Linked DNA regions of Homo sapiens. The protein of the gene in region 1 purifies or fractionates together with the protein of each later gene. This does not show direct contact. Each region holds a gene or a part of one and is shown on either strand. Other genes may lie near its edges.

Region 1 (3,658 bases):
AGGTTGGAAGAGGCCCTTCTTAGGTATATACCACTACTTGGGAAGCTTAGTCTGCCCCTGCCCCAACCTTGGGCTGGGGAAAATGGTGTGGGACAACATATTCCTAAGAGCAAGCCAGGATTCTCTGGGGTTCTGCAGGATGGAACTTGAGATGAAAGAGTTATCACTCCCCTGAAGGAAAGCTCCATTTCTGAACCCAACAATGTACTATTTCACCTCCAAGGCAGGAACAGTGCTAACTGAACACCCCTCTCCTGTTCTCACCTTGGGATCCTCAGGTGGCTCTGAGAGGGGTGGGGGGTGGAGAACAGACAGGTACCCTTGAATTTACATAGTATAAAGCTATAGGTGTGCAAAAACTGGAAATGGGGAAGGAGGCAGAAGACTCATAGCTTCCATTAGAATACCAAGGGCTCGCCGGGCACGGTGGCTCAAGCCTGTAATCCCAGCACTTTGGGAGGCTGAGGCGGGTGGATCAGGAGGTCAAGAGATCGAGACCATCCTGGCAAACATGGTGAAACCCCATCTCTACTAAAAATACAAAAATTAGTTGGGCATGGTGGCGTGCGCCTATAGTCCCAGCTTCTTGGGAGACTGAGGCAGGAGAATTGCTTGAACCCAGGAGGTGGAGCTTGCAGTGAGCTAAGATGCACCACTGCACTCCACCCTGGGCGACAGAGCGAGACTCCGTCTCAAAAAAAAAAAAAAAAAAAAAAAGAATACCAAGGGCTCCATGATGACTTAAAATCCTACCCAGCTCGATACTGTTTCAGGGCCTTCTTGCTTGTGTTGGTGAGTTCTTCATCAAATACAGATTTCTTCCCCTGCTTTTGCTTCTTGGCTGTGCACAGAGAGAATGGGTTACATATGGTTGTCTTTGGCCCAAGCTCCTAAATCCCCTTAAGTTCAAGGTAATGATTCCAAGTTCAGTGGATACTCTGGCATCCAAAGACTATTTTCATTCTGTCCTCACCAGCTCCTCCAAGTAGCAGCTGGTGAGGCCTTAGGCTCCGGAGTCAGAAAAGCTGGCGTTCAAATCCTAGTTCTCAACAACCACAAGGTCACTGCGCCCCTTAGACCGTGGAGGGATAGCTGTACACATTGGTACATACTAATTACTCAAATAATGTGGGCTACTGTCATCATCCCTCAGATTTTCTCCCTGACCCAAAGCACAGGTTTCAGGGAAAACCTTGTACAAGCTCCTTTGGGCTCCCCATTCACCTACCAGGACCTCTCACTGGCTCCTCCTCGGGCATTGCTCGGGCCCGCTTGGCTCTGCGATTCCTCTTCGCTAGCCGTTCAGCAAACATCTGCGCCTTGAGGATTTCAAACTGAGACCTTTCCTCTGCCTAGGGGGAGTGGGGAGGTGTGAGTGTGGAACACACCAGGCCACTCTGACCCACCCCACCGAGTGGGCCCAAACTCCAAAAGGGAGGCCACTCACTGTCATCTCCCCCTTTTTTTTGGCATCCTTCATAAACTTCTTCCTTTTCTTCTTTCCTCTTAAGGCCAAGTCAAATTCCTGCAGAGCTTTGGCAACTGGGATGAGAAGAAAGCATAAGATTTCAGGGATGATTTTATCTTTTTTTAAGCTTACGATAAGAAGTGCACGTTTTCAATTGGTAAGTTAGCAGATTAAAATGAAAAGCGGCAAGCACTTCTTGGCCGAGTGCAGTAGCTCGTGCCTGTAGTCTCAGCACTTTGGGAGGCTGAGGTGGGTGGATCACCTGAGGTCAGGAGTTTGGGATCAGCATGGCCAACATGGTGAAACCCCGACTACTAAAAATACAAAAATTAGCTGGGCATGGTGGTGCACCTGTAATCCCAGCTACTTGGGAGGCTGAGGTGAGAGAATTGCTTGAACTTAGGAAGGGGAGGCTGCAGTGAGCTGAGATCGCGCCACTGCACTCCAGCCTGGGCGACAGAGCGAGACCCTGCCTCAAAAAAAAAAAAGAAAAGAAAAGCCGCAAGCACTTCTTCCACTGATTACCTCCATCTCACTAAATAACATGCTTTTTTGACTATTTCTCAATCCACTTAAGATACTCATTACAAACCTCCTGCTATGAAGGATGAAGATTTAGGTCACTTTACTACTTTACCCACCAATACAGTTATAACTCTATTTTTATCAGAAATTTAAGTTATATACACCCTTATTTTGTCCCATCAAATATAGACAGCATTTCTAAAACTGCTGGTATACCCTCTAGGAGGGAAATTTTGCAACCTCTAACAAAACTAGAAATACAAATATCCTCTGACCCACTATTCCACTTTTAGGAATTAATCCTGCAAGCCAAATATACACTTGCTTAATTGTAAAAGGGCATATGTGCAAGGTTATTCCCTACATCACTTGTTTGTAATGACAAATGATTATTTTTTGGGTTTTTTGTTGTTGGTGGTGGTGGTTTGAGTCGGGGTCTCATTCTGCCGCCCAGGCTGCAGTTCAGTGGCAGAATCTTAGCTCACTGCAACCTTGACCTCCCCAGGCTCAGGTGATCCTCCTACCTCAGCCTCTCAAGTAGTTGGACTATAGGCATGCACCACCATGTCTGGCTAATTTTTTGATTTTTAGTAGAGATGGGGTTTTGCCATGCTGCCCAGGCTGGATGACAAATGATTGTAAACAACCTCAATGTCCCTCAACAATCTACTCATATGATGGAAGAACATGAAGCCATTAAAAAAAACAAAAAGGGGGCCGAGTGCAGTGGCTCACACCTGTAATCCCAGCACTTTGGGAGGCCAAGGCAGGCGGATCACGAGGTCAGGAGATCGAGACCATCCTGGCTAACACGGTGAAATCCCATCTCTACTAAAAATACAAAAAATTACCCAGGTGCGGTGGCAGGCACCTGTAGTCCCAGCTACTCAGGAGGCTGAGGCAGGAGAATGGGGTGAACCCAGGAGGCAGAGCTTGCAGTGAGCCGAGATTGCGCCACTGCACTCCAGCCTCAGTGACAGAGCAAGACTCCGTCTGAAAACAAAAAACAAAAAGGGCAGCATATGTGGGCCTATATAAAACATATCTCTAAGCTTCAAAATTAAGTGAAAAGGCGAGGCATAGAACAATGTGAACTTATAAGTGTTTTGGGTCTTTTTTAAAGGGAGATGGAGAGGAAATCTGTATTAAATATCTCCTAACTTTTTTAAAATTATTTTTATTGTGGTTATATATACACATATAAAACAAAGGCTGCCATTTTACCCAATCTTAAGTATACAATTCAGTGGCATTACTTACATTCACAACATTGTACAACCATCACCACTATCTGTTTCCAAAACTCCTATCAGGAGGCTACTCACTGACATCATTGAAAACAGAAGCTCTGCAACCACTAATAATTTCCTATAACCCCCCTTCCCCTAGCCCTAAGTAATCTATAATCTATTTCTGTCTCTGTGAATTTGCCTAGCTAGATATCTCAGGTAAGTGAAATCAGACAGTATTTGTCCCTTTGTGTCTGGATTATTTCATTCAGCTTAAGATTTTCAAGGTTCATCCTTATGGCATGTATCAGAACTTCATGGCTGAATAATATTCCATTGTGTGTATATAAACACACACCCCAAATTTTGTTTATCCATTCACTTGTTGATGAACATAGTTTGTTTCCACCTTTTTGCTATTATGAACAGTAATTCA
Region 2 (2,442 bases), on another chromosome or scaffold:
CTCTATTAAATTATTCTTACCTCAACTTATCAGACACTTCTGTAGTCCTCCCTTCCTTTTCACACATGTAAATCATCAACTCACTTTAATTAAGCTTTTTTTTTTTTTTTTTTTTTTTGAGGCAGAGTCTCACTCTGTCACCCACGCTGGAGTACAGTGGCACAATCTTGGCTCACTACAATCTCTGCCTCCCAGGTTCAAGTGATTCTCCTGCCTCAGCCTCCCTAGTAACTGGGATTACAGGTGTGTGCCACCACGCCCAACTAACTTTTGTAATTTTAGTAGAGACAAGGTTTCACCATGTTGGGCAGGCTGGTCTAATTAATTAAGCTTTTTAAACAATTTAACCAAAACAAAATTCTGGCATTAGATTCAGCATATCAGGAGGTACTCTTTGAAGACCATTGCATTTCTTTCTTTTTCAGTAAAATGAAGGGGAAAAAAAGTGTGTTGACCTGAATTGATTTGATATGGGGAAGAGGCCTTTTAAGATCAAGTCCTTTCTTTTTGTTACAAAGTTACCTTGGTTGAACATCATATTTTATTTGCATTTTATGCTTTTAGTTATTCTGTGAACTTTTCTGTACATCTGGTTTTGCTTAGTTTGTTCATATTTATTTCTCTTACTAGATAGTAAGTTCTCTGAGAGCAGAAATTTGTTTACTACCCCAGCACTTAACACGGAACCTTATTAGTTGGGTTCAATAAAAATACATTGACAAGAATTTGAGTTTTTATTTTATACTCCTATAGGACTCAGAAATAGTATCCTGATACTTAATAGGCAGTGGTTACTCAAAATCTGTACCAAAATCCAAAGGGTTTTAACTTAATTCGTTTTCTATAGGGAGGTATATCATACAAAGAGAATGCAACATGTTATCTGTGTAAAATGGACTTCTGACAGCAAGTATATTATGTGTGGATCTGATGAAATGAACATTCGCCTGTGGAAAGCTAATGCTTCTGAAAAATTGGGTGTGGTAAGAGAATTCATTTTCTTTCATTGTCATAAAGCTGATTTCTAATTTTATTAGATATTACATTATGAAAATTTACTTTTAGGTATTTTTGGGTATTTTGATTAAATTGACATAGCTGTGATAAAAAAAGCAATAAATGGACAAGGTTGTATTGATAATTATTTGCTTCATTCTGATCTATTATTGTAGACACTGTACATTCAAATTGACATTTAAGACCTTCAGAATGCCTTTGTTAATTCAGATGTTTGATAATATTGAGTCTTACTGGTTTTTTGTGTTTTCCTTGAGGTAGGGACAGAAGATGCAGGAACTAGAGGCTCAGAACTTAGAGCTCGTATCTCTTGTTAGAGAAATAGTCATCCAGCAACTCAAAGGCTGCAAGTCCCTGGGAGATCTTGTAATATCAAAGACACAATGGAACATTTAATAAATACAGAAAGCTTCATACTTTAAAAAAGATTCCATGAAAAAATAGCAGGTGTTATCATTGGCTGGTTACCTCCAGGATAGGGGATTATGGTTGATTTTGTTTTGTTCTTGATGTTTTTCTAAATGTCCCATATTTTCTATAAGAAACAGAGTGTTTATATTAGAAATAAATATTAAGTTTAAGAAGGAAAGGGTAAGTGTGAATTATTTTCTACTTAGTCCTGATAGGAAAATCAAAGGCAATTCTGTTTTAGGTTTAATGATTGATAAGTATTGCATTGTGCCTAGGTCCATCATTAAATGTTCCTCTAAATCGTATCATCCTTAACATTCGTTAAACAAAGGGTAGTTCTTATGGAATTGGATACTTATTTTTTCTTTGCTGTTTCACTATGTTTAACTCACCTCTTTACCCACCCCCAAAATTTGAGTGAGTGATTTAGGTGCTTTTCTATGTTATTGATGCCTAGGGAAGGTCCAACTCAGTGATCCACGTGGCCCTACTCCTTCAGCACTGCTGCTTTCTACTGGGTGGCATCTATCTACATGGCGAGTGTGTTGCCTAAAAGGAAATTCAGTGCTTGCAGAGCTAGTGTTACTAATATAACCTTGTAAAGTGCAGAATTACATTGGCAATTTTGGTTGCATATCATAAAAGATTAGGTTAGGGGGAAAAGGGTGCTTTCTAGCTTTTTTATACTGAAGCAAAACAACACACTATTCATTAAGATACCAAAATGTGTATTTTCAGCTTACATCACGAGAAAAAGCAGCCAAGGATTATAACCAGAAATTGAAGGAGAAATTTCAGCATTATCCTCATATAAAACGTATAGCTCGTCATCGACATCTACCAAAATCTATCTATAGCCAGATTCAGGAACAGCGCATCATGAAAGAAGCTCGTCGACGAAAGTATGTTTTGAGGCATTTGACTCTATTACCCTTTTCTGACTTCTGCTCTCATCTCACCAAAAACAAAGTTAACTGCCATTCAAGGGAGTAGTTTATGTGCTATTATTTAATA

What was found. Proteins that work in one complex are often made in the same cells at the same time.
Region 2: the proteins of DDX27 (region 1) and DCAF13 fractionate together in Homo sapiens (co-fractionation; one large-scale study listed by BioGRID). This does not show direct contact.

What each region holds. Positions count from the first base shown.
Region 1 is NC_000020.11:49,239,777-49,243,434, reverse strand, and holds part of DDX27 (probable ATP-dependent RNA helicase DDX27), read right to left. Parts: intron 1,543-3,658; coding exon 1,448-1,542; intron 1,353-1,447; coding exon 1,229-1,352; intron 842-1,228; coding exon 754-841; intron 1-753. UniProt on the Homo sapiens protein: Probable ATP-dependent RNA helicase. Component of the nucleolar ribosomal RNA (rRNA) processing machinery that regulates 3' end formation of ribosomal 47S rRNA.
Region 2 is NC_000008.11:103,439,289-103,441,730, forward strand, and holds part of DCAF13 (DDB1- and CUL4-associated factor 13), read left to right. Parts: intron 1-847; coding exon 848-983; intron 984-2,166; coding exon 2,167-2,330; intron 2,331-2,442. UniProt on the Homo sapiens protein: Part of the small subunit (SSU) processome, first precursor of the small eukaryotic ribosomal subunit.